Homo sapiens: one gene and its partner. The gene in region 1 interacts genetically with each later gene. Each region holds a gene or a part of one and is shown in the gene's direction. Other genes may lie near its edges. The genes, in order: BOD1L1 and SEC22B.

The links.
Region 2: changes in BOD1L1 (region 1) and SEC22B together harm fitness more than expected from each alone (negative genetic interaction), as found in Homo sapiens cells (one large-scale study listed by BioGRID).

Annotation. Positions count from the first base shown.
Region 1 is NC_000004.12:13,596,482-13,600,309, reverse strand, and holds part of BOD1L1 (biorientation of chromosomes in cell division protein 1-like 1), read left to right. Parts: coding exon 1-1,364; intron 1,365-3,141; coding exon 3,142-3,206; intron 3,207-3,828. UniProt on the Homo sapiens protein: Component of the fork protection machinery required to protect stalled/damaged replication forks from uncontrolled DNA2-dependent resection.
Region 2 is NC_000001.11:120,166,318-120,170,145, reverse strand, and holds part of SEC22B (vesicle-trafficking protein SEC22b), read left to right. Parts: intron 1-1,196; coding exon 1,197-1,306; intron 1,307-3,828. UniProt on the Homo sapiens protein: SNARE involved in targeting and fusion of ER-derived transport vesicles with the Golgi complex as well as Golgi-derived retrograde transport vesicles with the ER.

The DNA of each region.
Region 1 (3,828 bases):
GCCCCCAGAAGCTGAAAGTCCTCTTGCCTCAACCAGCAAGGAGGAGAAGGATGAATGTGCTCTCATTTCCACTAGCATAGCAGAAGAATGTGAGGCTTCTGTTTCCGGTGTAGTTGTTGAAAGTGAAAATGAGCGAGCTGGCACAGTCATGGAAGAAAAAGACGGGAGTGGCATCATCTCTACGAGCTCGGTGGAAGACTGTGAGGGCCCAGTGTCCAGTGCTGTCCCTCAAGAGGAAGGCGACCCCTCAGTCACACCAGCGGAAGAGATGGGTGACACCGCCATGATTTCCACAAGCACCTCTGAAGGGTGTGAAGCAGTCATGATTGGTGCTGTCCTCCAGGATGAAGATCGGCTCACCATCACAAGAGTAGAAGACTTGAGCGATGCTGCCATCATCTCCACCAGCACAGCAGAATGTATGCCAATTTCCGCCAGCATTGACAGACATGAAGAGAATCAGCTGACTGCAGACAACCCAGAAGGGAACGGTGACCTGTCAGCCACAGAAGTGAGCAAGCACAAGGTCCCCATGCCCAGCCTAATTGCTGAGAATAACTGTCGGTGTCCTGGGCCAGTCAGGGGAGGCAAAGAACCGGGTCCCGTGTTGGCAGTGAGCACCGAGGAGGGGCACAACGGGCCATCAGTCCACAAGCCCTCTGCAGGGCAAGGCCATCCAAGTGCTGTTTGTGCGGAAAAAGAAGAGAAGCATGGCAAGGAGTGCCCCGAAATAGGACCATTTGCAGGAAGAGGACAGAAAGAGAGCACTTTACACCTCATAAATGCAGAAGAGAAGAATGTATTGTTGAACTCCCTTCAGAAAGAAGATAAGAGCCCAGAGACAGGGACAGCAGGGGGCAGTAGCACAGCAAGTTATTCAGCAGGAAGGGGCTTAGAGGGGAATGCTAACTCACCTGCCCACCTGAGAGGACCAGAACAGACGTCTGGGCAGACGGCTAAGGATCCCTCTGTCAGCATTCGCTATTTGGCAGCAGTAAACACCGGTGCTATAAAAGCTGATGACATGCCACCTGTTCAAGGGACCGTGGCTGAGCATTCCTTTCTTCCTGCTGAGCAGCAGGGGTCTGAAGACAACTTGAAAACCAGTACCACCAAATGTATTACTGGCCAAGAATCAAAAATTGCTCCTTCCCACACAATGATCCCTCCAGCTACTTACAGTGTAGCTCTGTTGGCTCCTAAATGTGAGCAGGACTTGACTATAAAGAATGATTATAGTGGCAAATGGACTGATCAAGCATCTGCTGAGAAAACAGGAGATGATAACAGCACAAGGAAATCATTCCCTGAGGAAGGAGACATAATGGTTACTGTGTCTTCTGAAGAAAATGTGTGTGACATAGGTGAGAATCTGTACCTAATTGCAAATTTTAATATTTACAAGGATGATTGTACAACAGAGTGCATTTAGGACAGTCTTCCAAAAGATGGTTTTGGTTCCAGAAAGATAAAATATCTATAAATTTTTTTCTCATATCATAATGTTGCAAAATAACTCTCATCAAACTTGAAGGTCAAACTTCTCTAAAAGCTACTTGTGTTTAAAAGTTTAAAGCCTTTGGCCCATTTCTCATGTGTGGGGAGAGAAAAAGCAGGAGGCTGAGGCATGGGAAGTCCACATGTTATTTACATGACTGCTGCAACTTACTAAACCTTTTTGACCTACAGGTTTTTTGTCAATCAAAAAGAAGAATACCCTACCACAACCCAATGAAAGCAATACATTTTTTTTTTACCACCCTCATTTTACAAACGAGGAAATAGGGTCAGAAAATTTAAATAGCATTCATGGTCCTCGGGTGACTTTTAGAGGAAAAATCAGTTTCTGAGCCTCCATTTCTTGTTGTATAAAATGGGGATAATAAGACGGGATGATAATACAAAGGCAAACACGATTCCAACCCTCATCTGATCATAGGTTTGCAGTATTTGTTTGTTCAGTCTGTTAGTTCCTTTGAATCAAAGGAGCATGTTATTTTTAACTGAGCTTATTTTTCAGGTGAAATGAGTTTCTAGTTTAGAATATATTTGAAAGTGAAAAGAAACATTTTTCCCTGCTGACAGATTTTGGACAGTGCTGGTCTTTTAGAAATAGTTAATAACTTTCAAAGATATTATCTCAGTCATGCCTTATACCGTCCAACTTCAGATACTTTATACCAGTCCAGATTGGAGAAAAGTGGACAGTGACACTTTAAAGCATGACAATTGCATAGACTGGGATTAAGCACAGGATGCTGTAGGAACAAAAGGGTCCTCATGGGCTGGACTTGAAGGGACAGAGGAATTCTTTTCCACTCTGGCTATATAAATTGTAGCATCCTGGACTTTTAACTGAAATAGACCTTAGCCATCATCTAACCCAGTCTCAGGAAGCTGAGGCTAATAGATTTAGTCTTGTTCATTATAGAGACTTAGGAGACTTTAAGAAATGCTCCAAGGGTTGAAACAAGTAACTTTACAAGTTTCTGTTGAATTTAGCCTGGAGTAAATTGAATGCTCCAGAAGTTTTTATGACTCAATCATTGCTACAATTACTCATTCCTCCTTTTTTCCTGAAGAAGTGAAAATAGAAGGGTTTCCACAGAAGCTTCTACACAATCTAAAGAAGGATATAAGAGGCAAGACCAGAGTAGAACTGAATCTCTGCACCTGAGAAAATTTTTTCTTTTTGTCTACCTCACAGTTTAACTTTGTGTTCAATTTTTCTGTGTTCAGTGTGAAGCAAGTAAAGTGAATCTGTTAATAAATCACCTTTACTGAGAATAGACCTTAGTGACTCAGAATATTTTTAAGGACAAACTTGATGGAGATCACTGCAGAAAAATACTTGGAAATGAAGATGTCTCCACAGATAATACTTTTGTCATTCTTTCTGGGCAGTTATCTTACTGTGCAAATAAGAATTTCACTCACCCAAAATGAGCAAATAATCCCTGCCTTTCATCCAGATTCTTTTATACAACATATTCCTTTTGATCATTTTCTACTGACAGCAAAATAAACCAGAAAAGGAAGGTGCAACAGCATGTCAGATAACCACATTCCATTACTTTTTGACCCCAGATGTATTTTGCAAGCAAATTCTTAAACTGTACTAAATGGCTTGAATTTTATTAGGCAATGAAGAGTCTCCATTGAATGTTTTGGGAGGATTGAAACTGAAAGCCAACTTGAAAATGGAGGTATGGCTTATAATTCAGCTGTGCTGAACTGTAAGTGATTAAATACTGTTTCATCACATATACACATATATATACTTATGTGGTATATAGGTCCTGTTCTCATTGTACTTATGATATTTAGTGTTGTTATTGCCATATCCTGTGGGGGGAAAGCTAAGAACCTCAGTAATCTTAGTAAATAGTGCTATCATCAGTTCATTTACTCAAGCCAGAAACACAAGAGTCACCCTCAGTTTCTCCGTCATCCCACATTTAATCTATCGCCATTTCTTACAGGTTCCATTTCCAAAATATAACATGAGTCCATCTATTTCTGTTTCTACAGTCATCACCCTAGGCTAAGCCACTACTTCAGTAGCCTCTCCATTAGGCTTAGTTCACTCCAGCCCTCCTCCAGTGTGATTCACACAGTCCTGCAGGTAGTCATTAGAAACATAACTTAGGCCCTGTCATTGCTCTGCTTAAAATTTGTGGTGGCTTCCCATCATGCTTAGAATAAAATCTGCTTTTTTTTTTTTAAGCATGGCTTTGGTGCTTTACACAATTTAGTCTCCATATCCTCTTTCTAGCCTGATCTGAAGGCACCATCCAAGTATATGTGACAAAACAGCAGTGAACATGG
Region 2 (3,828 bases), on another chromosome or scaffold:
TAAATGACAGAAATTGATTTTTCTAGTTCTGCAAGGTGAAGATCAAGCACCAGCAGATTTGGTGACTATTGAGGGCCTATTCCTGGTTCATAGATGTCACCTTCTGGCTGTTTCCTCACATGGTGGATGGAGCAAGCTAGCCCTCTGGGGTCTCTTTTATAAAGGTACTAATCACATTCATGAGGGCTCTACCCTCATGACTTAATCACCTCCCAAAGGTCCCACTTCTTAATACCATCACTTTGGGGGGTTAGGATTTCAACATGAATTTTGTGGGGGATACCAGCAAACATTCAGACTATAGCTGGGTAGCTGGCAGAAAGCTCCCCTACCCCACATGTGGATGGAAAAACAATGTCTATTTGCTTCCCATTCTTCAGGCACTTCCTTTCCCTGTTGGATCTAGTAGATTGGAGATGCATGGTTTTCTTCTTTTGAAATGACACTGCTGGTTTTTCCAGTAGATTTGCCCCCTCTTTTTAACAAAAATAATTGTAAAAGCAGTTAGAAATTGTTCAGGAAAATATTACCTGTAATTATAACATGTGAATGCTATTATTTTCATTTTTGTCTGCATATATCCCTCGATATTCAAACTTTTGCTGTCCAAACTTGGGAACCAAATAGATTTCTTCAGTAAAGGGTATCTGACATCCTAATCTTTGTCTCTACCCTTGGTCATTTTTATGTAATTGCAGTCAAAGTGTTCGTAATAATTTGCAGTCACTAGTACACACATTTAGTTTTGTTTAAATGCTAAAAACTGTAACACTTGTGGAAGGTTCTGCTGGATATTCCAACATAAAAATGAAATTCACCAATCTTGTTCCTAGGATATTCCCCTGAGTATAGCACATGCTGTGTAGTTCTGTGCCAATAACTGCAAATGAAATGGGTTAGGAGGAGAGTACTGTCCTAATAGTGGAAAGAACACTGGATTGAAAGTTAAGAGTGCTTAAGTGTATTTGAGGTATATGCTTTTGCTTCTTAGCAAATAACTAATGCGATCATCTTGAAGAAGTAGGGGTTAGGTCTTCCTCTGTACTCTGAAAGTAGGTTGTCTTTCCTCCGTTAAAATGAATCTTACTTACCTGTAAATGAAGGACCTCATTCAGAGTGTCCTCATAATATGATGCTTCTCACTAATTGATACAGCATTTTGTGGAAAATTCTTAAATGAAGATGTCTTCTTTCAGTCTGGCCGGGACCTTCAACAATATCAGAGTCAGGCTAAGCAACTCTTTCGAAAGTTGAATGAACAGTCCCCTACCAGATGTACCTTGGAAGCAGGAGCCATGACTTTTCAGTGAGTGTAATCTTGATTTCTTTATGATCATTTAAGTGAAATACAGTAACAGAATGCCTGATAAAAAATAATAATTTTTAAAAAGTAAAGATTACTTAAAAATGTTGTCTTTTGGGAGGAGCAACTTCTCTGGCTCTAATTCTACAAAATGGACATCTTGTTGGTTTTTTCAGCATGCTTACAGTAATTTAACCTGTTAACATGTGTCTATGCTGTGCCCATCATGCAATAATAGATAACTTCTTGCTTTAGGACTGTCTTGGAGCCAGATATGTGTAGGTTAGTACCCTTGCTCAAACATTTCCTAACAGTGTAACTTTGAACAGCTCACATAACTTCTCTAAGCCTCAGTTTCCTCTATAAAGTAGTGAAAATAAACATAGGAGGTTTGAGAGGATTGTGAGGGAATCTGTGTGTATTACTTAGCATCTTGTCTGACACACATGGGAAGAGTCAATAATTATTAGTTATTATTATTTTGAAAAAAGAAAATTATAAAAGATAAGAGCATCTTAATCAGTGGTTATAAATGATACAGCTGATAGAGGACTCAAAGGAACATTATTGGATTTTAAATTATCTACAAATAATTGGTATTTAATGTTTAATACATGCCAAGTTTGAAGCTGACAAAATAGGAAGGATTAAAAAGGAAAAGAGTACAAGAGCATCAGAGGAAAATAAAAACGGATTAGTTAAATAATCTTTGCCATTTTAGGGACTTAGATAGTAAGATAACTTAGGCCAGGGAGGAAGCTGCTATGTTTACTTTTAAAAAACAAAACAAAAATTCTCTACCTATAAAAGACAAGTAAAAAGTACATCAAAACAAAAATAAAACCCTAGGCAATTGGCTAAGAAAATGTTGGACATTATGTTTTATGATGTATTAATTTTTATAATATCTGAAATATTTTCTAGAACTCTAATTTTCAACACCAAAAATAGTCACTCACTTAATATCTAGTATCCTCATTTTCACCATGGTTTAGAGAACCAAGACCTAGGAAAGTTCTCATGGAATTGAGAAGAGATTTTCTTCTGCCTGATTCCTTTAGGACATTCATAATCTCATATCATCCTTTATTTCCATCCAAGAGCTATTAAGGGTTTATTCTTTGCCAGACCTTATATTGAGTCCTGCATTTAATGTCCATACCTTTTAACACTGTTCTCTTAGTAGAGAGAGAGACATATACTCAAACAAGTATACTATAATATCTTAATTGAAAAGATGTTGTAAATTAGATTTAAATGAAATGTTTTGGGAACAGAGAGAAGGAAGGAACAAATTCCCATTTGTAGGGGGTAAGTTTGAAGAAACGGGACAGAGGAGGGGAGTATATATAAAGAAGTTTCACAGAAAAAATTATGGTAGAATTGAACATATGAAAATGAACAGGATTTCTCCAGGTATTTAAAAGAGCATTAACGGTTAGAAAAAACAATATAAGCAGAAGTCCACAAATATGTAAAGAACCTAGCATGTTGGAGAACAGTCCGCCATTTGGTTTATTAAAATATATGATAGAATGTTGCTTACACTTGTTTTGAAAGGCTGTAAATATAATACCATGGAGTATGATTTTATTTTGTAGGTATTAGGGAACCCTTAGAGTTTGTAAGCAGGGTAATATGGTCATCTGTAGTCTCTGGGAATAAAACTGATGGTATAGAAGATGGTGTAGACTAAAAGCAAAGAGACCAGTTAACTCAGGTGCCCAAGCAAGGAATAAGACAGCTGTATTATTAATATTATTTTAAGGGGCCTGAGAGATCATATAATAGTCTTTATCCTTTATGGAGCCCTAGGATGCCTCAGGAGCCACATAGAAAGGGCAAGGATGGGAGTATATATAATGCTTTGGGCCCCTAAACTCCTCCTTATGTTTTAAATTTTTCCCTTTTATTTTCAGTTGACATGTAATAATTATACATATTTATGGGATACAGAGTGATATTTCAATACATGTATACAATGTGTAATCAAATCAGAGTAATTAGCATATTCATCACCTCAAACATTTATCATTTCTTTGTGTTGTGAACATTCAAAATCTTGTAGCTTTTTGAAAATACGTGGTAAGTTATAGCTAGCCATATTCACCCTACAGTTCTGCAGAACACCAGAACTCATTCTTCCTATCCAGTTGTAATTTTTTATCCATTAACTTGCCTCTGCCCATCCTCCCCTTCTCTCTACCTTTCCCTACTTCTAATACCCACAATTCTACTCTCTACTTCCATGAGCTCAAAAATTTTTTTTGGCTCCTACATATGAATGAGAACATGCCATATTTATCTTTCTGTGCATGACTGATTTTATTTAACTTAATGTCCTCCAGATTTATCCATGTTGCTGCTAATGATAGAAATTCATTCTTTTTTATGGCTGAATAGTATTCCATGGTGTGTGTGTGTGTGTGTGTGTGTGTGTGTGTGTAAAAAACACTTTTAAAATCCATTATTCTCTTGATGGACATTTCTCTTGATTATCTATCCATAGATATTATGAATGGTGC